Linked DNA regions of Homo sapiens. The protein of the gene in region 3 interacts with the protein of the main gene of each other region in a biochemical or structural test. Each region holds a gene or a part of one and is shown on either strand. Other genes may lie near its edges.

Region 1 (7,024 bases), on a different chromosome or scaffold from region 3:
ATTCATTTAATTGCAAAGCATTTTGAAATAAAAAAAATCAAACTTAAAACTGTGTTCTGTTCCTGGAGGTGGCCTGAGGCCTCCCCGACAGCCCAGCACCTGCGTTCCTGGTGCGAACACGCTAGCACAGGGCCTGCCGCAGGGCCTGGATGCGGGCAACGCAGGCGCCAATGGGCTGGCGCTGAGCCTGGAGCTCCTCTGCCAGCAGCTGGATCTGCATTTCCACCTGGGGCCATGGAGGGACAGGCAGGGCTGAGAGGGAGCACAGCCCGGGGCGTCCCCAGGGACACCTGGGGATGGCCTGGGGCCTCACCTGTTCCAGCTCTTTCTGCACCTGCTGCTCTACTTCCTGGTCCTCAGGCCCCGGCTCCTCTCTGTTCAGCTCCAGCCACCTGCGCAGGCTGCTCGCTTGCCGCCGACAGGACCTGAGGGGTGGAGATACCCACTGCCTGCCAGGCTGGGTCCTTGGCAGAGCCCCATCCGGCTCAGGGAGAGGCACCTCAGCTAATTCTGATGCGGGTATCGGGTGGAGAGAGGTGGTCTGGTAGGGCCCCTGACCTGAACTGCAGGCCCCTGCTTGGGAGCCAAACACTTGTTCTTTTTCCTCTCCCAGTCTCCTCCGCCCTCCCCAGCAGACAGCAACTCAGGTGGGCCTGGGCAAGAACACACTCCTTGTCTCTCTCCCCCTGTGCAGAGCCAAGGATGAGGCGCCAGTCTGTTGCCCTGGAAGCTCTGAGGTTGCTGCATGTTGAATGGTCCCCAGACCACTGAGTGCAGCTGAGTCACGGGCCTGTCTCCTCTGCATTTTTTTTTTTTTTTGAGATGGAGTGTTGCTGTGTTGCCCAGGCTGGAGTGCAATGGCGTGATCTCAGCTCACTGCAACCTCCGCCTCCCAGGTTGAAGCGATTCTTCTGCCTCAGCCTTCCAAGTAGTTGGGACTACATGCGTGCACCACCATGCCCGGCTAATTTTTGTATTTTTAGTAGAGATGGGGTTTCACCATATTGGCCAGGCTGGTCTTGAACTCCTAACCCCGTGATCTGCCTGGATCACAGCCTCTCAAAGTGCTGGGATGACAGGTGTGAGTCACTGCGCCTGGCCCTTCTCTGCACCTTTAATATCAGTGTTATAATTAGTCACTGGGGACAGCATGGCCTCATCGGGTTTTTAGAGTTTTGCTCAACTTTATCGTCCCCCCCATAGGAAGCAGAGCCTCTGTGCACAGGTGAGTCTGACGACTTGGGCCTTCCTAAGCAGCACTGAGCCGGGTAGAGAGCCATGGTGGAGATGGGGTCTTTCTGGACAGCACACACTGAGGGCTCCCCACACCCCTCCATGGCTAGACCGAGACCACCTACAGGACCCTGGCAGCTGGCTCGGGGGAAATGGAACTGCCTGCCCACCTCTCCAGGCAACACCTGCTCCTGTAGCCAGGGCTGCAGGGCGTTTCGCAGGGCTCACCAGAGGTTCTGCTTGGTGGTCTGGTAGTGCAGTAGTTGCTGCTGGATCTCCTCAAGTTCAGCCTCAAGGTCCAGGCTGCCTATGGCGACAGAAGTAAGCTTGTTTCAGACTATTTTCCCCTCGGGGACCAGGGTAAATAGCAAGTCCCAGGTCCGGGAGTGGCCTGAGTGCTTTCTGCCCTGACAGGCCCCAGGTACACACCTGCAGTTGAAAGTCCAGGCCCAGCCCTGGTGGCTGAGAAGTCCCCAGGAAGGAGTAGATGGGGGTCAGGGACACTGGCCAGGGATGAGGGGACCGGGGGCTTATCCCTAGGAGTAGCCCGCTGTGCTGACACCTGCAAAGGAAAGAAGGGTAGATGCTGAGCAAGGAAGCTAGGAGGAAGCCAGGGAGGGGGACACCAAGTCCTTGTCACTGCCTGCCCTGCAGGGGTGGGGGAAGACCAGGCTCCCAGCTGCAGGAGCTGGGCTTCCCAGGCACTGGCCGTGCCAGCTCAGTGTCTAGCCTGCCCCTGCACACAGGGCCTGGTACTGTAGGGGAAAGTCCCGCAAGCAACCAGGGAGCACCCCGTGTCACCACAGTCCGCCTCACGCCTCCACTGCCTGAGCAGCTGTTCCTAGCCTTGCCTTACCCAACCCTCCACCCCCACCTGCTCTAAGCTCATGACCTTGCTGAGCTTTGACATCAGTGAGAAGTGGTCAGTGAGAGGCCACTGCTCTACAGCCTTTTCCATGCCCTCCTCTCCTGGTGAGAGTGGACTTGCCCCTTCCATCACCGGACAGGGGTCAAAACCCTTTCAAACCCACATTCAAACCATTCCAGCCAGGGTAAGTGGCCCCACATGGCCTAACTCACCACAGGAACTGGTTCCTTCCTGTCCCCTCATCCCCTTTCAGGAACCAGCTGCTTTGGTGGCCTTAGAGCAGCTGTCACTTCCATTACTGAGCTCTCACACCCCCTGGCCATCCCCACCCAGGCTCCCTGCTTGGAGCCTCCTCCCCTCTCTCCTTCCCCTGTACTCTCCTCCTAGAGGCCGCAGTGGCTCTGGGGTTACCTTCGGCCTGTGCTGAAGATTCTTCTCAATCTCTGGCCCTGACCTCTTCCTTGAAGGTCAGACTCAACGTTTGCTTTCTCTCAAATTTGACATCAAGAGCCTGGTTCAAAACACTCTTGACACTTCACCCCAAACCAGTCCCCACCCCCAGTTCCTTCTTCCAGTCAAAGAACTCTGTTTCCCAAGTTATTCAAGCCAGCAGCCCACATCAGCCTGGATTCCTTCTTTCCCCTCATTCAGCAACTCCCTCAGAGCAGCATATCCTGCCTCATCTGCCTCCAAGAGAGTACCTGTCCCCTCTGTGGCAACCGCTGAGCCCAGGCCACCAGTACTACTTGCCTGGACCACGTGGTCATGGTGACCACAGCCTGCACAGAAACCTGACATGGTGCTCCCTGCCAAAACCCTTCCCCGACTTCCTACTCTTCTCAAATCCCAGGCTACTTCTCACTGTGGCCTGCAGGACCCTACGTGATCTGCAGCCACTTTACTGGCCTGCAGGCAGGGGTTTTTCTTTGCTTGTCTCTGACTAGAATATAAGCTTCAGGATGGCAGGGCCCTTGGCTGGCTGTTCACTGCTGTGGCCCTTGGACCTGGTGTGCAGTGGCTACCTATGCTTGTCAAATGGATGAGTGGCCTCCCTGTGCCAAGGTTTTCCAGAAACTAGTACAGCTGTGGCATGAGAAAGCACCAGAAGTCAGACCAGAGTGAGAGCCCCAGTGCCCAGGCCTGGTGGTGGAGGACGTACCCTGGCTGGTGCAGCCGCCCCGCAGGGCATGAAGGAGGAAAGAGGCAGCAGCAGCAGCTCCGGGCCTGTGCTTGCCGTCGGGGGCTGCTTCGGGCCAGGGGCGCTTGACAGGGCCCCAGGCAGGGGGCTGTGTGGGACCAGTGCTGTCGGGGCCTCTGCCAGGAAGGGCCGCGTCAGGGAGGGGGCTGCTGGCTGAGCCATGCCTAGGCCATGTTCCTGTGGCTTCTGAGGCCTGAGCACAGGGAAGGCAAGAGCCTGGTCAGGCCACAGGACCCTCCTCTGGGACCAAAGAACAAGAAGGAAAGGGGGCCACCCACCCCAGGGCTGCCAAAACACAGGCCCCACATGGAGGTGCCCGCTGCCTTTGGGGACCCCTGACCATCTCCCCCTGCCTGCCCACGGTGCTGCACCCCAGGGACCTCTGGCTCTGCGCAGGCTCCAACAGGAAGTGTGGGCGTCGCGGCTGCTTCCTCGCTGAGTGGGCAGTGTTGCTGGAAAGAAACATGGGGTCTGTTCCCCTGGGCTGACCAGGGGCTGCAGGGGGGTCTGAGATCTCTGTGGGATCTCCAATTTTATAGGGAGACTGAAAGTCAGGAAAGGCGAGGCCAAGGTCAGCAAGTAAGCTGGGGTGGGCCTGGGCCATAGAGCTCCCAGCAGTTCCGACAAAAGGTACCTGACGCCAGGGGACTGCTTCACCCACATTGTCTCTTTTGACCTGCAGAACAACCCTGGTGACGCTGGTGTACAGGTCGCCAGGGTCCATGTCACAGGGGAGCAGCCTCTGAGACGTTCAGGATCCCATCAAGGTCAGTCAAACAGTGAGGAGCACAGCAGGGACCGGGACCCAGGCCCCATGCACCCACCTGACATCTCCCCCGAGGCCCAAGGCTCTCGGGTAGTGCTGGTTGCTGTGGGAGCCACCAGCTTCATCAGCATGGGGCAGGGCAGGTTAGGGTTTGAGGAGACCATAGTAGGGGTGGGCAGAGGGACAGGTGCCAGCTCACACAAGAAAGAGGGGCTTCTGACAAAAAGCCAGTGTCTTGGCTGTGATGGAGCAGAAGAGAGGCCGGCAGGCACGGGTAGGAGCTGAGCTTGTTCCCTTTGTCAACTACGTGTATGACTCCGGAAAAGATCGTGTCAGCAGGACGGGAGAGAGGGTAGGAAGGTGTTGCAGAGGAGGGGACACCTATTTCCTGAGCTTTGGCAGGCAAAGGAGAGAGGGTTTGGAAATCCCACTCCATTCTCTCCCTCTTGCCGTGGGAGGGATGGGATCTGGCTGGAGAAGAGGGGGTTCCCAGCAGCTCAGCTGTGACAAGGCCGTGACCAGCCCGTCCCATCCCGTCAGGGCTGTTTTCCTCCCTGCTATGCCATCCAACCTTTTGCCCAGGGTGGAAGCGAGGACAAGGTGAGCACAGGCTACTCACAGCTCCAGGGCGTGGGGCTCCTCAGCAGCCAGGCGGCCCAGAGCTCCCAGAGGCCGAGAAGCCTGTGGCCTCTTGGTCTCAAGGGTGCCATCCCCAGCCCCAGCAGCAATGCGGTTGAGAAGGGGACCCTCAAACGTCACTTTCCTGCTGGGTGCGATGGCTGCCAGGGGCTGAGGCTTCCCGCCCCGGCCCAGCACTTTCTGTTTCCAGAGCGTGGCACAGCGGCGGACGGCACGATGGAGACTGTGAGCCGCCTACAACACAGCCTCTGGTCAGCTCATGCCACACCCTGCCTGCTCCCCACAGGAAGGGGCCCTGGGCCTACCTGGACCTGCTGCTGGGCCTGCAGCTGCTGCCGGGAGGCCTTCATGCTGGCTGCAAAGCGCAGGAGCCGCGTGGCACCCTCCTGGAGGAGCTGCCCCTGGTAGGCCTGGAGCGCCCACTGCAGCCGCGCCTTCTTTCTCCTCCTTTCCAGTACAAAGGCCAGCCACGTGGCCCACACCTCCAGGGAGGGCAGGAGGTGAGGCCCAGGTCTCCCTGCTTAGAGCTCCCCCACAGACCAGGTGCCCTCCCTCCACCCAAGGCAGGGCTAAGGCCTGAGGGAGAGGCAGGGATGGTAGGATGCAGAGCCCCAATTACCTTTGCCTGCAGCGAGAAGGCCCAGAACCACAGGGCCCGCACTGTCGCCCGCTGCTCCTGCCTCCTGGCTGCCAGCTAGGGCCAGAAAGACCAGATCATTTCCCTATAGCCCCTTCAAGGAGGCCGTGGTGATCACGGGGCCCTGCCCAGCTCGTCCCTCTTGGCTCCCTCTCTAGTCGAGGCTCCCACTTCCTCCACTAGGAAGGGCCAGCCTTGTGCCTGGCGGTGAGATGCTCAACACACGCTCCATCTGTGGCCTGAGGAATGACCTTCATGAAAGAAGGTGGCAAAGGGCTCCTGCAGGGGGATGCGTGGAGGCAGCGGCCTGAGGTCCGGGGAATGGTGAAAACAGGACAACAGAACGGGAAGAGGGAGCTGGGGACGTGTGGATGCTGCTCTGTGTGATCCCTCTTGGCTTTTTAAAAAGCAAGATCCCAGCAAAGCCTTAAAACACATTTCATGTTAATTTTTAAGATATTATGCTGATTTTTCTTTTTGAGATGGAATCTCACTCTCATCCAGGCTGAAGTGCAGTGGCATGATCACAGCTCACTGCAACCTTGACCTCCCGGGCTCAAGCAATCCTCCCGCCTCAGCCTCCCGAGTAGTTGGGACCACAGGTGTGCACTGCCTACACCCAGCTAATTTTTCTGTTTTGTTTTTGTAGAGATGGGGTCTCACTATGTTGCCCAGGCTGGTCTTGAACTTCTGGGCTCAAGTGATCCTCCTGCCTCGGCCTCCCAAAATCCTGGGATTATAGGCGTGAGCCATCATGCCCGGCCCACTGATTATATATATATATATATATATATATATATTTTTTTTTTTTTTTTTTTTTAGACAGAGTCTCGCTCTGTTGCCCGGGCTGGAGTGCAGTGGTGCTATCTCAGCTCACTGCAAGCTCTGCCTCCCAGGTTCACGCCATTCTCCTGCCTCAGCCTCCCGAGTAGCTGGGACTACAGGCGCCCACCACCACGCCTGGCTGATTTTTTTTGTATTTTTAGTAGAGACGGGGTTTCACCGTGTTAGCCAGGATGGTCTCGATCTCCTGACCTCATGATCCGCCTGCCTCGGCCTCCCAAAGTGCTGGGATTACAGGCGTGAGCCACTGCGCCCGGCCTCCACTGATGTATTTTTTAATACAACACTGTAGAGAGAGAAACTGGCCTTGAAGTAACTGTTCTTATGCAGACTGCAGACGGAAGGAAGCTGATGTGCCTGGAAATGACAGGAAGGTGGTAGAGGAGGTGGCCCTGGGGAGGGTGATAGTAAAAATACTGAACTAGAGGTGTAGGCTGAAGGTCATTCACTGCCCAGGCCTCACAGGCCAGAGGATGGAGAAGGAAGTGCAGAGGGGACATCTCCTGGGTTCCCACCTGTTGTCTCCACTGGCGGAAGCAGGTCCGGCTGAGTCTCTGTGCCAGCAGTTGGGTGCTCTGCCTGTGCAGGAGCTGGGGGAGAGCAAGTGCACAGAGAGTGGCGTCCTGACCCAGCCTAGACAGCCTGGGGTGGGTCCTGATCTAACCCAGCCTCTGCCCAGCTGAATGTCCTCCCATTGCTAGGAGTCCTGGATGGTGCCAGGGGTCTCCTGCATAGGCAGGGAGTGCCGCCTAGAGGACTCACTCTGTAGGTCCCCCAGCACTGATAAGCCACGGGTCAGCATGAACCGGGTTTTTCCGCTGAGCCGTCTTCCCTGGGAGA
Region 2 (7,602 bases), on a different chromosome or scaffold from region 3:
AAGACACACATAGGCTCAGAATAAAGGGCTGGAGCAATATTTACCAAGCAAATGAAAAGAAAAAAAAAGCAGGGATTGCAATCCTAGTCTCTGATAAAACAGACTTTAAAACAACAAAGATAAAAAAGGACAAAGAAAAGCATCACATAATGGTAAAGGGATCAATGCAACAAAAAGAGCTAACTATCCTAAATAGATATGTGCCCAATACAAAGGACCCAGATTTATAAAGCAAGTTCTTAGAGACCTACAAAGAGACTTAGACTCCCACACAATAATAATGGGAGACTTTAACACCCCACTGTCAATATTAGACAGATCAATGAGACAGAAAATTAACAAGGATATCCAGGACTTGAACTCAGCTCTGGAACAAGAGGACCTAATAGACATCTACAGAACTCTCCACCCCAAATTGACAGAAGACACATTCTTCTCAGCACCACATCACATTTATTCTAAAACTGACCACATAATTAGAAGTAAAACACTCCTCAGCAAATGCAAAAGAATGGAAATCATAACAAACTGTCTCTCAGACCGCAGTACAATCAAATTAGAACTCAGGATTAAGAAACTCACTCAAAACCACAAAACTACATGGAAACTGAACAATCTGCCCTGAATGACTACTGGGTAAATAAAAAAATTAAGGCAGATATAAATAAGTTCTTTAAGGCCAATGAGAACAAAGACACAATGTACCAGAATCTCTGGGACACAGCCAAAGCAGTATGTAGTGGGAAACATAGCACTAAATGCTCACAAGGGAAAGCAAGAGAAATCTAAAATTCACATCTGACATCACACTTAAAAGAACTAGAGAAGCAAGAGCAAACAAATTCAAAAGCTAACAGAAGACAAGAAATAATTAAAATCAGAGCAGAACTGAAGGAGATAGAGACACTAAATACCCTTCAAAAATCAATGAATCCAAGAGCTGTTTTTTGCAAAGATCAACAAAATAGATAGCTAGTCAGACTAATGAAGAAAAGAGAAGAATCAAATAGACACAATAAAAAATGATAAAGGGGACATTGCCACTGATCCCACAGAAATACAATCTACCGTCAGAGAATACTACAAACACCTCTACACAAATACTAGAAAATCTAGAAGAAATGGATAAATTCCTGGACACATACACCCTCCCAAGATTAAACCAGAAGGAAATCAAATCCCTAAATAGACCAATAAAAAGTTCTGAATTTGAGGCAGTAATTAATAACCTACCAACCAAAAAAAGCCCAGGACTAGATGGATTCACAGCCGAATTCTACCAGAGATACAAAGAGGAGCTGGTGCCATTCCTTCTGAAACTATTCCAAACAATAAAAAAAGAGGGACTCCTCCCTAACTCATTTTATGAGGCCAGCATCATCCTGATACCAAAACCTGGCAGAGACACAACAAAAAAAGAAAATTTTAGGCCAATATCCCTGATGAACATTGATGTAAAAATCCTCAATAAAATACAGGCAAACTGAATCCAGCAGCATATCAAAAAGCTTATCCACCAGCCGGGCATGGTGGCTCGTGCCTGTAATCCCAGCACTTTGGGAGGCTGAGGTGGGTGGATCATGAGGTCAGGAGATCGAGACCATCCTGGCTAACACAGTGAAACTCTGTCTGTACTAAAAATACAGAAAAATTAGCTGGGCGTGGTAGTGGGCACCTGCAGTCCCAGCTACTCAGGAGGCTGAGGCAGGAGAATGGCATGAACCCAGGAGGCGGAACTTGCAGTGAGCCAAGATTGTTCCACTGCACTCTGGCCTGGGCGACAGAGCAAGACTCCACCTCAAAAAAAAAAAAAAAAAAAGCTTATCCACCACAATCAAGTTGGCTTCATCCCTGGTATGCAAGGTTGGTTCAACATATGCAAATCAATAAATGTAATTCATCACATAAACAGAACCAATGACAAAAACCACATGATTATCTCAATAGATGTAGAAAAGGCCTTTGATAAAATTCAACATCCCTTCATGTTAAAAACTCTTAATAAACTAGGTACTGATGGAACGTATCTCAAAATAATGAGAGCTATTTATGACAAACCCACAGCCATTATCATACTGAATGGGCAAAATCTGGAAGCATTCCCTTTGAAAACTAGCACAAGGATGCCCTCTCTCACCACTCCTATTCAACATAATATTGAAAGTTCTGACCAGGGCAATCAGGCAAGAGAAAGAAGTAAAGGGTATTCAGATAAGAAGAGAGGAAATCAAATAGTCTCTGTTTGCAGATGACATGATTGTATATTTAGAAAACTCCATTGTCTTAGCCCAAAATCTCCTTAAGCTGATAAGCAGCTTCAGCAGTCTCAGGATACAAAATCAATGTGCAAAAATCACAAGCATTCCTATACACCAAAAATAGACAAACAGAGAGCCAAGTCGTGAGTGAACTGCCATTCACAATTGCTACAAAGAGAATATAATACCTAGGAATACAACTTACAAGGGATGTGAAGGACCTCTTCAAGGAGAACTACAAACCACTGCTCAAGGAAATAAGAAAGTACACAAACAAATGGAAAACCATTCCATGCTCATAGATAGGAAGAATCAATATCATGAAAATGGCCATATTGCCCAAAGTAATTTATAGGTTCAATGCTATTTCCATCAAACTACTATTGACTTTCTTCACAGAATTAGAAAAAACTACTTTAAATTTCATACAGAACCAAAAACGAGCCCATATAGCCAAGACAATTGTAAGCCAAAAGAACAAAGCTGGAGGCAGCACGCTAACTGACTTCAAACTATACTACAAGGCTGCAGTAACCAAAACAGCATGGTACTGGTACCAAAACAGATATATAGACCAATGGAGCAGAACAGAGGCCTCAGAAATAACATCACACATCTACAACCATCTGATCTTTGACAAACCTAACAAAAACAAGCAATGGGGAAAGGATTCCCTATTTAATAAATGGTGTTGGGAAAACTGGCTAGCAATTATGCAGAAAACTGAAACTGGTTCCCTTCCTTATACCTTACACAAAAATTAACTCAAGATGGATTAAAGACTTAAATGTTAGACCTAAAACCACAAAAACCCCAGAAGAAAACCTAGGCAATACCATTCAGGACAAAGGCATGGGCAAAGACTTCAATACTAAAACATCAAAATCAATGGCAACAAAAGCCAAAATTGACAAATGGGACCTAATTAAACTAAAGAGCTTCTGCACAGCAAAAGAAACTATCATCAGAGTGAACAGGGAACCTACAGAATGGGAGAAAATTTTTGCAGTCTATCCATTTGACAAAAGGCTAATATCCAGAATCTACAAAGAACTCAAACAAATTTACAAGAAAAAAAAAAAAACCCCAACAAAAAGTGGGCAAAGGATATGAAGACACTTCTCAAAAGAAGACATTTATGCGGCCAAGAAACATATGAAAAAAGCTCATCATCACTGGTCATTAGAGAAATGCAAATCAAAACTACAATGAGATACCATCTCATGCCAGTTAGAATGGCAATCATTAAAAAATCAGGAAACAACAGATGCTGGAGAGGATGTAGAGAAATGGGAATGTTTTCACACTGTTGGTGGGAGTGTAAACTAGTTCAACCATTGTGGAATACAGTGTGGCGATTCCTCAAGGATCTAGAACTAGAAATACCATTTGACCCAGCAATCCCATTACTGGTTATATACCCAAAGGATTATAAATCATGCTGCTATAAAGACACATGCACACTTATGTTTATTGCAGCACTGTTCACAATAGCAAAGACTTGGAACCAACCCAAATGCCCATCAATGATACACTGGATAAAGAAAATGTGGCATATATATACCATGGAATACCATGCAGCCATAAAAAAGGATGAGTTCATGTCCTTTGCAGGGACATGGATGAAGCTGGAAACCATCATTCTCAGCAAACTAACACAAGAACAGAAAGCCAAACAACGCATGTTCTCACTCATAGGTGGGAACTGAACAATGAGAACACATGGACACAGGTAGGGGAACATCATACACTGGGGTATGTCACGGGGTGGGGGGCAAGGGGAGGGATAGCATTAGGAGAAATATCTAATGTAGATGACAAGTTAATAGGTGCAGCACACCAACATGGCATATGTATACATATGTAACAAACCTGCACATTGTGCACATGTACCCTAGAACTTAAAGTATAATTTTAAAAAATCAGTTTTCTTTTGGCTTTTTCTTAGCTTTATACTTAAATATTTTTTTCTAATGTAATTAGAGTGGAATTGTTTTTTGAATTTTATTTTTGGATTACTCATAGCTAGTATATACAATTGCAATTGAATTTTATATTTTGATTTTGTATCTTTTCACCTTGCTGAACTCATTTATTTGTTCTAGTAGATTTTAGGAAATTCCTTACAGACTTTTACATATAAGTTTATGAAAGATGCAATAAAGGACTTTATCTTCTTTTCCAAAAAAAAAAAAAATTTGTGCACTTAGCTCAGAAAAAAGTAAACAAAAAATTAACACAGTTACAAATTAGGATTTTTAGTGCAGGGGAAGAAGTTGTCACCACGCCTCTAAGAGGAAGGGGAAGTCTCAGAAGTATTTTCAGTTTATGACAGAAGGGCAAAAACATTGACTGCCTCAAGGTCTCAAGCACCAGTCTTCACCGCGGAAAGCATGTTGTGGCTGTTCCAATCGCTCCTGTTTGTCTTCTGCTTTGGCCCAGGTAAATGTCAATCCAGATCGGTGTAGTCACTGAGTGACTCCCTGGTTTTGTGCAGCTTGCTCAACCTAAATCGTCTGTATACAGTTGTCTGGCTCTCTGCCAAGGGATTGGGGCGGGAAAGGGGACGCTGGCAGTGTTACCTGATATACTACTACCTCCTCTCAACTTTGGATGCGATAAGCCTGAGATGGTTGTCGGTGAACAATTTCAATTGTGTCTGCATGTAAGAAAGTTATTTGCTGGGGCAGAGGAAATAAGCTTTTGAAGACAAGACTGTTTGTGGTTTATGACCAGCATCTTGTGTTATAAAGAGTACCAAGACCAAGAAAATGGGCCCTCATACCAATGTATCTACTATCGTACTGTGAACCTCAGGGAGGTTACTTATCCTTCCTGAACCTCACTATCCTCATCTAAATTATTAAAAACCTATTATTCAGTTGAGCCAAATTTTCTGGGCCCAACCAAACACACCAAAAATAACCCTCTCACCTTTTGCTCATTGCAAAAAAAAAGGTTTCCATCTCTCCCCTCCTTTAGTGCAAATTAGGGCTAGCTAGTCCAGCAATGCATTATATATGGCAGTGAGAAAAGAATGAACTGATCCAGCTGGCTTCTTGTTTCCTGCTGTCCATTATATGGAGAAGATGAAGATTCATATCACATTTGGGGAACTACAAGTGGTCCACGGGAGACAAAGTGTAGCATTCAGGCAGAGATAGTCCAGGAGACCAATGGAAATCTAGTCCAGAGCTAGCCCAGGGTAGCAGATAAAAGTAGGAAGCATTCACTGAGCACTTATTGTATTTCAAGTATTGTGCCAGGTGCTGTACACACGTTATGAGTCTCATGAGAATTCTATGAATTTATACTATTAATATCTCCATTTTAAAATGAAGAACTGAGGTGAACTTAATTTAAATAATTTGCCCAAATTTCATTAGCCAGCATGCGACAAGCTCTTGTAATAGTTATGAGAAAAAATAACAGTTCAACAAGTGTGGCAGCAGCATAAGAGAAAGAAGAGACTGAAGCAAGAGATCCCATCAATATGGAGTTAAGTAGAGTAATTGGTAATTGGAATGAGAAAGGAATAAATATTCATTGAGCACCTACTGAATGCTTGGCACTCTTCTAGTTTGCATGAATACATCATGAACAAAGCAAGCAAAAATTCCTGCCCTCATGGAGTTAACATTTTAGCAGGAGACAAACTGTAAAAAAAGATAAACAAGTAAAATAGTGTATTGGGTAGGAAGAAATAAATCAAGAAGGAAAGGGAGAGATGAAATATGGTAAAGACGGCAGTGAAATTTCAGACAGGATAGCCAAAGAAAGTGACAAAATTGGAAGGTGGAGAGCAGCCACAGGAGGAAGGTGAGTTCAATTTTGGACCTACTGATTTTAGGATGTCAGTGTGCTATACATGAGGAAGTTACGTGGAGGATCCTGGGAACTTAGGACTAGGGGTAGAGCTGAGGCTAGAGACTTAAAAATCAATGGCATAGAGATATGTTAAGCTGAGGAGAAAACTGGAATGAGAACAGAACTTTGGGAAATATATATAAAATGCAGAAAGAGAGAGAATTCTTTCCTTCATTCAAGAGCCACTTCCTGATCTAGGAGCAGAATCTTGAGTTTTTGCTTCATTTTTACCACCCTGCAAAATTATTTCCACCTCTAGAATAAAATATTCTGAATGTCCTTGTGTTAAAACTCCTCTTCTTCTCCCTATTTCCATGAATACTTCTTATAATGACCCTATGAAATATACAGTGCTCCAATCTCCACTTCACAGATGGGGAAAGAAGGCACAGAACACTAAAGTAACTTGCTCACTGCCCCACATTTATGGGGGAAATGGGTATAGAAAGAGAAACACATTTGAATGAGTTTACAGGAGGCAGATGCAGGTGTTCTGAGACCCAGGAGGAGAGAAGTGGCTGCTAGAATTGGAAATCAGGAAGCTTGGCTCCGGAGTCTGTGCTCATAGCCACTTCACTATGCTACTTAGCTTACACACAGTCATACATTCACACAAATGTGTACATAATTAGAAAATGTGAGGCCAGCAAAAAAAATAAGCAGGGCACCTTCATAGAGAAAAACACGGGGACCTGCTTTGGACGGAGTGATGAAGAAAGGACTTCCTGGAAAAGTAACATCTCATCTGATATTTAAAGGGTGTGAAAAGTTAAACAGGAAAAGTCAAATGAAGAAGATTTTAGGGCAGAGGGAATCATGTGTGAAAAGCCGTGATGCAGGAAAGAGCCTGGAGTGATTTAGGAAGGGAAAGAAGACCACTGTTGCAAAAATGTGGGGCAAATGAAATTAATCTTTGAAACAACCATGAAAAACAATGACTCATGCCAGCCTACATTCTTTGAAGTGGGTTGGGCACTATCCTGACTCCTTTTAGAAAATTTAGTGGAAAAGACAAACCATATTGAAAAATAATCCCATTTCCTTTAACTCAAGCCCTGGGTGGCAAAACTAACAGAACAAAACAATAATTGTAAATAAAATCAAGCATCATGACTTCCTAGAGAAAATAAATCTCGTTTGTTTCTTCATTTTGATTTTTATAGATGGAAAGTTGGAAATTTGTCAAACTTAAATGTGCATATAAATTACTTGGGGGAATCTTATTAAAATGCTGATTGGGGAATAGGGACTGAGATTCTGCATTTCTAAGAGGCTCCCAGGTGACACCAATGCTGCCTGTCCATGGACCACACTAAGCAGCAAGGTTCTAAATTCCAATGGACTTCAGTCATACTGGGATTGTAGGGAGGAAGAAATAGAAACTAACTTTGAGTGTGTTTGCAGGAAGCAGATATAGGTATTCTGAGGTCCAGGAGAGAGCAGTGGTTGGAAATGTAAGTAAAGCAAACACATGAGG
Region 3 (7,024 bases):
GTCATTTGGTCATTCTGCAAGCCCTTGGCTGGAGGGAGGCCGGCTGACAGCACACACAGATGCCCCTCTGAGCTTTCACAGGGACCAAGTCATTTCCAAGGGTCCCGGCCCCTGGGTAGGAGCCACCAAGAAGCGGTGTGGCTTAATGGTTAAGAGCATGCACCTTGTAGACACAAAAGGCCACATATTGCAGGATTCCATTTATATGAAATGCCCAGAACAGGCAAATCCACAGAGACAGAAAGCAGATTAGTTGTTGCCAGGGGCTGGGAGTGGGGAGTGGTGACTGCTAATGGGTACAGAGTCCTTTTTTGGGGTGATGAAAATGTTCTGGAATGAGATAGTGCTGATGTCTGTACAACTCTGAATACACTAAGAAACCAACTGAATTGTACGTTTTAAAAGACTGAGTTATGAGTATGTGAATTACATCTAAATGACCCTTCCAGGCTTAGTGACCTCAGGCAGGTCACTTCCCTCCCAGAACCTCAGTTTCCTTGTTGCAACATGGGAATGTCATGGAGATTAAGCACACATAAAGGGTTTCTTTTTTTTCTTTCTTGTGTGTGTGTGTGTGTGTGCGCATGTGTGTGTGACAGAGAGAGACAGGATCTTGCTCTGTCACCCAGGCTAGAGTATAAGTGGCACAATCTTGGCTCACTGCAACCTCCGTCTCCCAGGTTCAAGCAATCCTCCTGCCTCAGCCTCCCAAGTAGCTGGGATTACAGGTGCCCACCGCTGCGCCAGCTAATTTTTGTATTTTTAGTAGAGACGGGGTTTCACCATGTTGGCCAGGCTGGTCTCGAACTCCTGACCTCAGGTGATCCGACCGCCTCGGCCTCTCAAAATGCTGGGATTACAGGCGTCGGCCACCGTGCCCAGCCACATAAAGGGTTTCAAACAAGGTCTGGCACGTAGTAGGAGCTCAAGGATACAAAGTCACTACCCCAGGAGGCTCCAGGTCCTTCTTCCCTTATCTCGCTTCCTTCCCATCAGAGCATAGCCCCAGGATTCCACCCTCTCAGCCAGCCCTGCTTGAGAACATGCTACTCAGCTCCAGCCCAGGAGGAGGGAGGCATCAAATTCTTAGTCCGGCCGGGCGCAGTGGCTCACGCCTGTAATCCCAGCACTTTGGGAGACCGAGGTGGGCGGATCACTTGAGGTCAGAAGTTCAAGACCAGACTGGCCAACATGGTGAAACCCCATCTCTACCAAAAATACAAAAATTAGCCGGGTGTGGTAGCATGCACCTGTAATCCCAGCTACTCGGGAGGCTGAGGCATGAGAATCTCTTGAACCCAGGAGGCAGAGATTGCAGTGAGCAGAGATAGCACCACTGCACTCCAGCGGGGGCGACAAGAGCGAGACTCCATCTCAACAAAACAAAACCTTAGGCCCGCCTTCTCTCTGGCCTAGCCCCTCTCCTAGAGGATGGTCACAGCCACGGAGAACTCCAGAGAGGATTCTATAGTCTGAGAACGTTGCCTGATCAATGCTTTACATCTCATCTGCCACTCACTGGCTGTATGGTCTTGCACAAGTCACATCTCATCTCTGGGCCTTGGTTTCCTTATCTGTAAAATGGGAGTAATAATTACTACGACCTGGGTGGGGTTAAGCCGTATTTGCTCCATAGTTATTTGGTGTATAGCACATTCATGCTTTAAACTAAAAAATAAGGCTGGGTGCAGTGGCTCACACCTGTAATCCCAACACTTTGGGAGGCCAAGGTGGGAGGATCGCTTGAGCCCAGGAGTTCGAGACCAGCCTGGGCAAAATGGTGAGATCCCATCTCTACAAAAAATAAATAAATTTATTTATTTTTTAAAATATTAAAAAATAAAATAACAGCTCCTACCCCAAAGAGCTATTGTGAGGATTAAATGTGATAATTCAAGCCTTCAGTGCAGTGCCCAACAAACACCAAGTGTTCAATGAACTTGAACTTATTTTTTAGTTTAAAGCATGAATGTACTGTATACCAAATAACTATGGAGCAAATACAGCTTAACCCCACCCAGGTCGTAGCAATTATTACCCCCATTTTACAGATAAGGATGTTCAATGGCTGCTTTGCCATTCTTGCTAACATTCCCTCAGTTTGCAGTGGGAGGTGGGGGATGATGACATTGAGGTCCAGGGAGGTCAGAACTGGGCAGGCACTGGAACCCAGACTTCCCGGCTCCAAAACCAGGGCTCGTGACTGCAGAGACCTCACCTTTGGAAAGGGTTTCCTCGCCACCTCATTTCCATCTTCTGTCACCTTTAGAAGGCTGTCAGGACAAGGGCTGCCTCCCAGCTGGGAGACTAAGGACCAGAAGGGACAGGACACTCGTCCATGCATACGTTCCTCTACCCCACTTCTAGGAGCAAAAGTCCCGAGTTTGCCAAATCAGAGGAGGGGGAAGAGGGCAGGTGCCCGTTATGAGTGGATGGGGCAGGAGTCGGGGAAGGGAGCCCAAGGCAGCAGAAAACCAGTTTGAGATCCTTCCTCTGTCCCAGCCCACCTCAACACCAGTCTGTGCCAACAGTAAGCTGCTGCCTCAGGGGTTAACTGCTTGGAATTATGACTGAGGCTAATGCCTGCAATGTACCATCAGTAATGCCTACCCTCCATGGCACACTTCACACAGCACCTCCCATTTGGTTGTTTTTTGTTTTGAGACAGGGTATGGCTTTGTCACCCAGGCTGGAGTGCAGTGGCACAATCATAGCTCACTGCAGCCTCGACCTCCCAGGCTCAAGCAATCCTCCCACCTCAGCCTCCCCAGAAGCTGGGACCACAGGCATGTACCACCATTCCTACTTTTAAAATTTATTTTTTGTAGAGATGGAGTCTCACTCTACTGCCCAGGTTAGTCTCCAATGCCCGGGCTCACGTGATCCACACACCTTGGCCTCCCAAAGTGTTGTGATTACAGGCGTGAACCACCATGGCTGGCCCCTTCTATCTATTTTAATCCAAATAATAACTATAGACATTAAATATTATTGTCTCCATTCCCAGATGTATAAAGTCAGTCCCGGGGGAAAGGAGGTAAGGGCTGACATTTATCCAATACCTATCATATGCTAAGCACTTTCACATTTCTCTCTCATTTGAGGTCGGTGTTATTGTTATCATTTCACAGATGAACAAACTGAAGATCAGAAAGAATGAGATTTAACTGAGTCCACAACGCTACAGGAAGTGAATGTGGCTAGACTTCCAACCATCTGCTTTTAAATCCATTTGAGTTCATTCATCCCTTTGGGGGCTACCATGCCCTCTCCCTAGGACCCCCCTTCTCAACGCCATATCCCTTGGAACTCAGCAGGACAAGATGGCACAGTGGTGACAGGCTTGGAGTCTGAATCTTGACTTTGCCATTTAGTAACTGCGTGGCCCCAGACGGATCACTTGACCTCTCCGAGCTTCAGTTTCCTCACCTGTAAAAGGGAGCTCATCACAGTTCCCACTGCTGGATTACTTGTCATTGTGGGTATCAGAGTCTCACAAAGTGGCCTCAAAGCACTGCGTGTGGAATGATGTCACTCGGACAAAAGCTCTAGGGCGGAGGGACTCCCTTCTGGTAACTGCTGAGGCCCAGATGCCTGGAACAGGTCCTGGCACATAGCAGCTGCTCAAGATGTATTTGCTGGATGAATGAATGAATGAATGAATGAACAGAGGAAAGGAGTGAAAGACGGGCTTAGTCATTCTCTCCAGGGCAGACAGGTCTCCAAAGCGAACCTCTGCCCAGCTAACTAATTAGCTTCCTCCCATCCATTTTTTAACAGACAGCTTACGGAGCACCTGCTATGTGTGGGGTTTTCTGGCCTATAAGACCAACACCTCTCATGAGGACAACTATCGTGAGCCCATTTTATAGATGAAGAAATTGAGGCTCAACAAGACCAGGACACTCACTCAAGCACACTTGGTCTCAGAGCCAGAGCCTGTATCTGAGCAGGTGCTTCCTTCTGATGCCCTGCCTGGCTGGCTTGTCCAGTCACTCATTCCTTCCTTCATTCATCCCTTCACTCTATCTACAGGTATTCCTGAGCCCCTCCTGTGTGCCAAGCAGGGACAGGAGTGAGCCAGACCCATGGGTCAGTCAACCCCATGCCCCCTGTCCCACCCTCACCTGCTGGGGTCTCAGCCCAAAGCCCATGGAACCCACCCTCCATAAACACACACACACACACACACTACACACAAATACATATACACATTACACACATATACACATACATACACACAATATACACACATACATACATATACACGCAAACATACACACACATACACACATGCACACATAGACATTCACATACACACATACACATGTATATACATACACATATGCACACACATACACACAGACATACATATACACACATACACACATATATACACAAACATACACATAAACATATAGTCATACATATACACACATACACATATATACACATATACACATACACATATAGACATACATATACACACATACACATACACACACAGACACACATACGCACATACACACGCACATCAATATACACACACATACACACGTACACAAACACACACACAGGGAATGGTCCCAGAAGGTGGCCAGCCCACTCGGTCAACCGGGTGGAACCCAGGCCACTCCACCCTCAGGGGAAAACGGGCGCCTGGTGAGACTGAGGAGCTCTTTGTGCAAGGGGCAGGGTGGGTGGACAAGAGGGGCTGCTGTTACTCACTAACCAAAGAAATAGAAGGATATTCCCGTTTGGTCAATGGCCCGCCTGTCTGTCCCCTGAGCCCCCGCCTCCTTCTGTGGCCTTTCCAATGCCCTGACCTCATCTGGAGACCGGCAAGGGCTTCCTGTGCGCCTGGTGTGGTCTCGTGTGATCCTCCCTCACCGATGAGGAAACATGCTCAGAGAAGTGATGTAACCTCCTTGGGGTCACACAGCCGGCAGTGGCCAGGGCTCGGGGCAGAAAGGGGAAACCAATGCTCAGGAAGGGGCTAGGGGTGGGAAGGAAGTCAGAGTCACATTGAAAGTGAGGCCCTGTCCCTTCCTCATTCCTGTCCGGCCACTGGGGTGCCAGCTCATGGGCTGCAAGGGCACCCGAGGTTGAAGGAGCCCAGGCCAGAACAAGAGCAGCAGCCAGAATAACCCAAATCCCTCCTCAAGTTGGCAGAGCTCTGACCTCAGCAAAGCCCAGGAACAGAGAGCTTAAGCCACTTTCTGAGGTCACAGAGCAGCAACTGGCGGAGCTGGGAGGTAAGCTAAGGTGGCTCAGACGCCAAGGTGGGTGAGCCTAGCGTAGCTTTCCACGCAAGAAGCTAAGCTGGCCACTGGGCTTTTCGTGGACCCAAGGACACCAGTGTCACTCAGATCTGGCTTCCAGCTCCAGCTCTGCCATGAGCCAGCTGGGCATCCCTGGGTAAATTGCTTCCTCTCTGAGTCTCGATTTCCTCAGCTGTAAAATGGGGCTCAGCATTCCTGCCCCTGCCCACCCCCGGCAGTGGGGAAGCTGTGACACCATCAAAATGAACATCAGCCCTCACACCTGTAATCTGAGCACTTTGGGAGGCCAAGGCAGGAGGGTTACTTGAGCTCTGGAATTCCAGACCAACCTGGGCAACATAGTGAGACCCCTGTCTGAAAAAAACCTTTTTTTTTAATAAGCTGGGTGTGTCCCAACTACTTGGGAGGCTGAAGTAGGAGGATCTCTTGAGCCCAGGAGTTCGAGGCTGCTGTGAGCTATGATCACACCACTGCATTCCAGCCTGAGCAACAGACTGAGACCCTGTCTCTAAAAATAATAAATAAAAAAAAAAGTGAACAACAGGCAATAGATGCTGGTTTTAAACTAAACACTCAAGGTTGTGCTGAAGACTGTCCACAACCTCCCAGCAAGGCAGGCATTACCTTATCCCCATTGTCCAGATGAGGAAACTGAGGCCAAAGGAATAATGGAACTTATTGGAAGCTGGGATTTGAACCTGGGCAGCTGGGCTCCAGCCCTAGTTTTTAAGCATTAAATCAGGAAAGTAAAAAAAGTTGACAGCTCCTGGCACTCAGTCAATGCTCATAAATATTTCATTGCTGAAAACATATCATTATTTGCCCAAATGCAAGTCTAGCTTTGCCCCCAATACCTTCCACCCACCCACCTGGCATGGAGGGGCTCTCTGAGGATGTCTGGGGGATAAGCTGGAAGAAAACATGCCCTGGAATGGGCCTGGGGACAAGGGGAGCTGACACGGGCTGAGGCAGAAGAGCTGTGCTTCAGAGCCCCATCCACGTGCCTTGGGTCATCCCTGCAAAGTGGGATGAGAGTCCCTTTGACACAGGAGGAAATGGAAGCCCAGAGAGGCCAGGTGGCTTCCCTGAGCTCCTCCAGCGGGGAATAGCAGGCCTGTCTTAAACATGCGGATGCAGTTTAAGCCCAGGCCTGTCTGCAGTTCAGGCTCTTTGTTTGTTTTGAGACAGGATCTCTTGCTCTGGACTGCAGTGGCACAATCGCAGTTCACTGCAACCTCTCACTCCTGGGCTTAAGCGATCCTCCCACCTCAGCCTCTCAAGTAGCTGGCACTACAGGTGCGTGCTACCACGTTCGGCTAATTTTTGTATTTTTTCTAGAGACAGAGTTTCACCATGTTGCCCAGGCTGGTCTCAAACTCACGGGCTCGACCGATCCACCTGCCTTGGCCTCCCAGAGTGTTGGGATTACAGGTGTGGGCCACTGCACCCGGCCAACTCAGGTTCCTATCTCTGGACTGCAGAGTAGCTCCCCCATGACCCCAGGCACCCCAATGAGGGTCCAGACAAATGGGGACGGGCCACCTTACAGGTGAAGGGATGGATTTGCAATCACACAAATGGGATTCAGGTCCCAGCTCTGCCCCTTCTCAGCTGAGAGAACCCAGGCAAGAGATTTCACCCTCTAGACCTCATTCTGCCCTCTGAAAAATAGAGACAAAAATAGTTTTGTATCCAAATGTGCTGAGGGTGCTTGACTCAGTGCTTGGCACACAGTAAGTGCT
Region 4 (7,024 bases), on a different chromosome or scaffold from region 3:
GAAAGGACCCAGCCAGAGTCCTCTCTGTGTCTTCCACCAGAACCTTCCTGCTCCCAGGAAAGGCCTGGCCTGGCTTAATCAAATCTAATAAAAAAAATCAAAATAACAACCAGTAGGCAACCTGCTAGGCTGATCCAACTGGACATGCTGGTGGCTGAGCAGGTCCTGGAGGCCCTGTCTTGCCAGGTGTTAACTCCTTGTATGCTGGGTCCCAGTGGAGGAACCGGGGCCAGGAGAAAAGCTAGGGCAGGCGGTGGGGGCCCTGACAGAGCTCTGGCAGCCTGATTTACCAACTGGCCCAGAAGCATCTCAGTGTTTGACACGGGCATACTGGTGTGCATAGGCTGATATCAGCTGTTGGTCTGGCAGAGTCCATGCCCAAAAAACATTTGTGGACCTGAGCTGAGGGCCAGAATGGATGTGCTTGGTTTCTGACCCATGACATAGTAGCATACAGGGCATGTGGCTTTGCCAGCTGTGTTCCTATGGGCAAGGAACCATGGAGATCTGAGGTCAGAGGTCATCAATCCAGAGGTTCCCCACTGACAGCAATGAGAGACTGTGAGCTATTTCTATTATTTCAAAAATATGAAAGAACACTGTCTTACCTATTTTAAGAATCAGAAAAAAATCGATTGCTACTAAATGGTTAATTACTAGCCCTGATAAACTAGCTTCTGCCCTTCTTGCAGGAATCTAGCTTTGCAGTAATTGCACTGTACTGTTACCCTTTAGTTGTCTGCTTGGCCAAATGGACCAGAATCTTTATGAAAGTGGAAGCTGAGACTGGTCACAATTGTATTCCCAGAACCTAATTCAGCGTTGGGCACAGAGAGACTCTCAATACATATGTGCTGGATGTTTAAAAAGAAGAGTTGATGGCTACTTCAGAGTAAGTACAATTTAATTTGATCAGAAATATCTTTTGAGACTTATAAAATAAAATTGGTCATTGGGACCTGCTGATGAAACCATCATTTTTATTTTTTTAAATTTTTATTTATTTATTTATTTATTTTGTGATGGAGCCTCGCTCTGTCGCCCAAGCTGGAGTATAGTGGTGCAATCTCGGCTCACTACAACCTCCGCCTCCTGGGCTCAAGTGCTTCTCCTGCTTCAGCCTCCCGAGTAGCTGGGATTACAGGCATGCACCACCAAGCCCAGGTAATTTTTATACTTTTAGTAGAGACGGGGTTTCACCATGTTGGCCAGGCTGGTCTCGAACTTCTGACCTCAAGTGATCCACCCGTCTTGACCTCCCAAAGTGCTGGAATTGCAGGTGTGAGCCACTGCGCCCAACCAAAACCATTGATTTTAGAGATGGAAAAACTGAGGAACAGGGAAGGGCAGGCTCTTGTTCTAATATGATGTGCCGAGTGAAGATTTAGGGGTCACGTGACTGCACTGGACTTGCAGGTCCACCTCTCACTTGCTGTGTGACTGGACAAAACAAGTTGCCTGACCTCTCCGAACCCTAGATTTTTTAAGTGCAAAGTGGGGAGAACTGCACATCTGAGACCAGAAGTGGGTGTGAGGATTGGCCAGGATGACGTGTAGGTGGTGCCAGGTGATGGCTGTTCCCTCTACACCCCTCATGGCTCCTGGTCCAATGCCTTCCACTGTACCACATAGAGCTCTTTGTTAGTGGGATACAACCAGTCCTGAGGCCACATATTTCAACCCTTCTGTTTCAAGGCCCCCAGCCACAATGCAACAGAACAGAAAGGTACATACATACGCCACGGGGTCATTACTCCGTGTCCCCACGATGCTGAACTTCTTCACATATGAGTTTTCTTTCAGGGCTTCTGCATATGCCTTGAGGGTGGGGATGGGGATATTCTGCACAAAGAAAGGCAACAGAGAGAGTGACCAGAAGCCTCCTCTGGGACAGGCTGAGGCAGGTGGATTAGCCTGGCTACTCTCTGATTCCTGGCAAGTCTCTGGCCAAAAAGCTGAATGGGCAAAAGGTTTAGGCTTTGTCCCGGACGACTGAAATCTGGGGAGAACTTTCTGGTAAACAGATTTAGAAAATCCTCCCTGAAAATTTCAGATAAGACCTGTAACCTCTTTCTTTGTGCACTTGGGGGCCAGAGAAGAGGCAAAAATTAAGGCGTGTAGTATTGTGCAAAGAGCTAGGACTAGGGGTGTGAGAGGGGCTGGAACCTGGCCTTGGTCCCAATGATCGGCAATGTTCCTGACTTGCTAGGTGTCTCTGTGGAAGCCTCCTGCCCTCTCTGGCCCTGTTTCTGGAAAACAGGTAAGGGGGTTGCATATGATACTCTTTAAGAGACATCTACCCCAGGGGGTCTCTGCTCCAGCGGCACATCAGAGACTCCTGGGGAACTTTTACAAAATGGTGATGCTTGGGCCGGCCCAGAACAATAGAATCAGAATCTCTAGGGTCAGGCCTGGGCGTTGGTATATATTTTTTAATCTTCTCAGGTGAAAACCACTGATCTGGTCCAACAGGCTCACAGTGCAGAGGAGAAACTGAGGCCCAGAGGAGGCTGGGGCCTCACAGGGAGATTCCATCCCTCATGTGGCCCTGAGGCAGCATTCACTGCCAGTGGGCAGCATTCTGAATTGTGCCAATGTCTCCTACTGGGCACATGAAAGAAAACATGGCTGTGTTTTTACCAATCTCTCAGAGCGTCACTTTAGCTCCCATGGGAGCAGAGCATGGGGAGGCCAGGTGGGGGTGAACACTAGGGTGCAGGTTTCCAATCTGATGGTGCCGTGGGGCTGGCAGCTGCTTAAAATAAAGTGGAGAAGGAAAGAAAGTGGAGCAGGGGCATGGGGGGCTGGCTTCTAGTCTTACCCCCACCCCCCTCCCAGAACTAATCCACTGGTCTCTGGGCTCAGCAGGTGGGTAGAAAGCTGCATTTGTCTCTGAATTCTTCCTGCGGCGGCCTGTTCAGGGTGAGACTGCCTGTCCACCTGTCCCTCCCCTGCCCCGGGATCACATAAGGAAATGTGCACAGAGAAAAGGGCAGACAGCTTGGGATATCGCTTTGGACATTTTGGCCAACAGCTCCCTTCTGTGGCTGTAAAACAAGGCTGAATATGAACGTGATATAGCAGCAGCGATGGCACAGGGGAGGGGCCTGCCCAGGGCCTGTGTTACCCCCGAGCCTAGTGGGCACCGGACTTTTCCAGCCTTGAGATCCCATGCAGCAGCGTGTGTCTGACTCATGATTTTATCTCGGAGAATCTCTCAGTGTTTTGAATAACGTGGCAGGTTTCCAGATCAAAGCTGGGTTGGCCCGTGCTAAACATCTGGGCCTGATATCATCCTCAGAAAGAAACCAGGACTGCCAGATGCACTTGTTTACACTGCCCACCCCTCTTAAAGGCTCCCATTTGCAAAGGTTTTGTCCCTATTCCCAATGCAGAAACACCCAGAATCCAAACAGGACCCTGTTTACTCTGCACAACCAACCCTGGACCGTTTGCATTTGGGTGACATGGTTCCCCCTCCCCCAGCCACACACAGGTAAAGTGAAATAAATGGACCTTACCCGGATATTATTGAGGTTAACTTCTTCAAGTTTTGGGTCGTTGTTCTTTATCCGTTCCAGCGTTTCCTCTACGTCTGTTGAATTTGGTTCTTCGTCGGGCACAGGCTTGTATTGTGTGGGTTTAATCACGCCTAGAGTGACCGATGAAAGGGAGGTGGCTCACAGAAACAAGGGGCTCACTTTCTGCCAACACAAAGATACTGTGGAAGGGAGCATGTGCAGGGTTGGGGCACGTGAGGGCTGCACATCACAGGGGCTGGGTGGGGGTAGGGGGCACCACTCAGAAGAAGCCCCGCAAGGGAGCCAGGAGGCTGGGGTTCTACTTGGACTCTGCCTTTGACGTCCTGCAAGAACTGGGTGAATTACTTAAACTCTCTGAACCTTGGGTCTACATCTGTAAGGCAGGGCTAGTCATTTTCCCGGGGCTCATGACCTCAGTGGACTCTTGGGAGGCTAAGATGAAGCCCGGATGGGAAAGAAATGCATCAATCTTCCAGAGGGAGGAATAATTATTTTTTTTGGCAGCCTCATTTCTGTTTGGGGCCAAAATGCCAGCTTTGGAACAATGCAGTGGAGTAATTAAGGCAATGCAATATTGGCACAGGAAAGGACAAAAGGGCTCATGAAACAGAGGAGGCACCTAGAAACAGATCCATGTGGATGATAAAGGCAGGCCCCAAACTAGTGGGGAAAGGATAAATCTTGCAAGGAATGGTGTTGGGACCACTGGATATTAATTCGAAAAAATGAAAGTTTGGTCTCATCCCACAGCACACACAAACATGAACTCCAGGTAGATTAAGAAGTTGAATATAAGGCCAGGTGTGGTGGCTCATGCCTGTAATCCCAGCACTTTGGGAGGCTGAGGCAGGAGGATTGCTTGAGTCCAGGAGTTCGAGACCAGTCTGGGCAATGGTGTGACCTCATCTCCATACAAAATAAACAAAATTAGCCAGGCATGCTGGCATACACCTGTAGCCTCAGCTACTCAGGAGGCAGAGGTGGGAGGATCGCTTAAGCCCAGGAGGTCCAGGCTGCAGTGTGTCAAGATTGTGCCAATGCACTCCAGCCTGGCTGACAGAGCAAGACCCTGTCTAAAAAAAGAAAAAGTTGAATATAAAAAGTAAATCTCTAAAACTTTTAGAAGAAAATATAGGAGAACATTTCTATAATACTGGGATAGAGAAGGCCTTTGTAAACAAGACACAAATCCCAGGAGACTCAAAGGAAAGGATGAACAGATTTGGCTATATAACATGTTAAAACTTCTGCAATGAGCCAGAGAACATCAGTGAGTGGAGGAAGCAAGAAGCATGAGGTCCCTCCTGGGGGCGGGCGCATACTCACTGTTGAGCCCCTCCTTGTTCATGATGGAGCTGCTGCTCAGGGCCTGGTAGTACTGCTGGTTACTCATGAGCGTGTGCATGCCCAGGATCGCTGCAGGGACAAGGGAAGGGCTCATGATGTGCCTCTGCAGACAGAAGAGCCTCCTAGGGACCCACACTCCAAACCCCGGGAACTCTGGCTCACAGAAATGGCAAGAAACACTTGCATGAAAACTTCAAAATTTTATTTTACTTTTACTCTCACCTCTATTGATGTGACTCTGAAATCCCCAGCCCCAGCCCAGGCTGCTCTGCCCCTGGCCTCTGATTCCCTGATGTCCTGCTGGCACATCCAGCTCAACGTGGCCAAACCAGAATGGCTCTTTCCAGTGACAGCCTCTTTCTTTGGAAGGCTCTCTTTCCATCTTGTCATCCTGCCTGTCCCTCAGGGTAAAACATCAGGGAATGTGGCACCTTCTCCCCATAAGCCCATTTGACCATCCCAGTGTCTCTGAGATCTGTCCCCCTCCCATCCCATCATCTCCATCCTAATGGAGGCCTGATCATTCTTTGGCTGTATTGTCACAGCTGTGTCATCACGGGTGTCTTGGTCTTGGCCTCTTCCTTCCCTCTACCTCCCAGCATGCAGCACAAAGCAGCTGGAAAGCTCTTTCTGGAAATGCCAACCTGATCTTATTGCTCCCGTGCTCAGCCATTCTTTCATCCATTCATTTGTTCAACATGTAATGAGGCCCACCCCAGCACTGTGTGCTAGGCTCTGGTGGGGACAGTGGAGAATAAGAAAGACTGGGTCTCCGCTCATGGAGCTGAAAGTGTGCTGGGGGAGAGAGGAGCCAAGCAAGTTCCCACACAATGAAAAACCAGCACAGGGTATGCTGAGTGTGGTAGAGGAAAAAGTTCAGTCCTAAGACAGCATAAAAGAGGAACTTGGGATGCAAAGGAGGAGTAAGTGTTGGTCAAGTTAAGAGAAGGGCTATAGAACATTACAGGCAGAGGAATGCAGGTGGGAAAGCCTCGAGGTTCAGAGAGTGGCAGGCCAGTGAGGGAGGAAGGTCAGGTTGGCATTTCAGGAAAGACCTTTCCAGCTGCTCTGTGCTGCATGTTGGGAGGTGGAGAGTAGGAAGAGGCCAAGGCCAGGACACCAGTGATGACACAGCTGTGACAATCACTGCTGGGGGAAACAGGATAGAAGCTGGATGTGTGGCGGTAATAATCAGACGCATGGCAACACCACCCCTCTCACTGAGCACATGCTCTGGGCCAGGGAAGACACTTTGTATCCATCATTCCCAATTTGGCTGCACACTGGAATCACCTGGGGATCTGTTGAAATTCCTGATGCCCAGTCCCACCCTAGACCAATTAACCCAAAATATCTGGGGGTGGAGCTCAGGCACCTGCATTTTTAAAGCTCCCTGGATGGTTTCAATGAGCAGCCAAGGTTGAGAACCATTGCCTGACACTCCCCTCCTTGATCTGCCCAATAACCCTCTGGAGTAGATTTTATTCACCTAGGCAAGGTCAGATTCTACAGGGTCTTCTAGGCTGAGTAAGGAGTTCGGGTGTCTTTTCCTAGGAACAGCCTGGGAAGCCATTAGAGGCTTGAGCAGGAAGTGAGATGGTCTGACCTGAGTTCTGATTATTGTGTTGAGAACTCACTACAGAGGGGAGAGATGGATGTGGCTGCAGAGCTGTGAGGCTGTTGCAGCTGTCCAGATGGGAGGACAGTGGCTTGTACAGCCAAATCCAAACCCAGAGCCTGGCTTCACAGGCCTTCCCTGGGCTGGCCCCACCTCACCAGTGTTGTTGCACTCCCCCTCCCAACAGCTTCTCTGCTCCAGCTACACAAACAGCCCCTGCTCATAGCTGCTCCTGCTTTTGCTAGTACTCTCCCTTCTGCTGGTGATTCTCTGCACCCACTTGACTTGGAATTTTAGATAAACAACAAATTTTTTTTTTTGAGATGGAGTCTCGCTCTGTTGCCCAGGCTGGAGTGCAGTGGCGAGATCTCGGCTCACAGTAAACTCCACCTCCCAGATTTAAGGAATTCTCTGCCTCAGCCTCCCGAGTAGCTGGGATTACAGGAGTGTCATCCTGTAATTTTTGTATTTTTTATATATACAATATATAAATACTTTATATATATATATATACAAT

Evidence for each region.
Region 1: the proteins of TRPV4 (region 3) and SFI1 interact in a test that uses a peptide from one of them, tested with the Homo sapiens proteins (one study listed by BioGRID).
Region 2: the proteins of TRPV4 (region 3) and SLAMF6 interact in a test that uses a peptide from one of them, tested with the Homo sapiens proteins (one study listed by BioGRID).
Region 4: the proteins of TRPV4 (region 3) and TMOD1 interact in a test that uses a peptide from one of them, tested with the Homo sapiens proteins (one study listed by BioGRID).

The regions. Positions count from the first base shown.
Region 1 is NC_000022.11:31,611,516-31,618,539, reverse strand, and holds part of SFI1 (protein SFI1 homolog), read right to left. Parts: intron 6,775-7,024; coding exon 6,700-6,774; intron 5,399-6,699; coding exon 5,324-5,398; intron 5,187-5,323; coding exon 5,010-5,186; intron 4,939-5,009; coding exon 4,685-4,938; intron 3,752-4,684; coding exon 3,680-3,751; intron 3,493-3,679; coding exon 3,261-3,492; intron 1,796-3,260; coding exon 1,663-1,795; intron 1,541-1,662; coding exon 1,462-1,540; intron 426-1,461; coding exon 314-425; intron 227-313; coding exon 122-226; 3' UTR 1-121. UniProt on the Homo sapiens protein: Plays a role in the dynamic structure of centrosome-associated contractile fibers via its interaction with CETN2.
Region 2 is NC_000001.11:160,520,242-160,527,843, reverse strand, and holds the start of SLAMF6 (SLAM family member 6 isoform 1 precursor), read left to right. Parts: upstream 1-4,588; 5' UTR 4,589-4,651; coding exon 4,652-4,700; intron 4,701-7,602. UniProt on the Homo sapiens protein: Self-ligand receptor of the signaling lymphocytic activation molecule (SLAM) family.
Region 3 is NC_000012.12:109,823,381-109,830,404, forward strand, and holds part of TRPV4 (transient receptor potential cation channel subfamily V member 4), read right to left. Parts: intron 4,223-7,024; exon of another isoform or gene 3,430-4,222; intron 1-3,429. UniProt on the Homo sapiens protein: Non-selective calcium permeant cation channel involved in osmotic sensitivity and mechanosensitivity. Activation by exposure to hypotonicity within the physiological range exhibits an outward rectification.
Region 4 is NC_000009.12:97,560,666-97,567,689, reverse strand, and holds part of TMOD1 (tropomodulin-1), read right to left. Parts: intron 4,959-7,024; coding exon 4,869-4,958; intron 3,653-4,868; coding exon 3,522-3,652; intron 1,843-3,521; coding exon 1,735-1,842; intron 1-1,734. UniProt on the Homo sapiens protein: Blocks the elongation and depolymerization of the actin filaments at the pointed end. The Tmod/TM complex contributes to the formation of the short actin protofilament, which in turn defines the geometry of the membrane skeleton.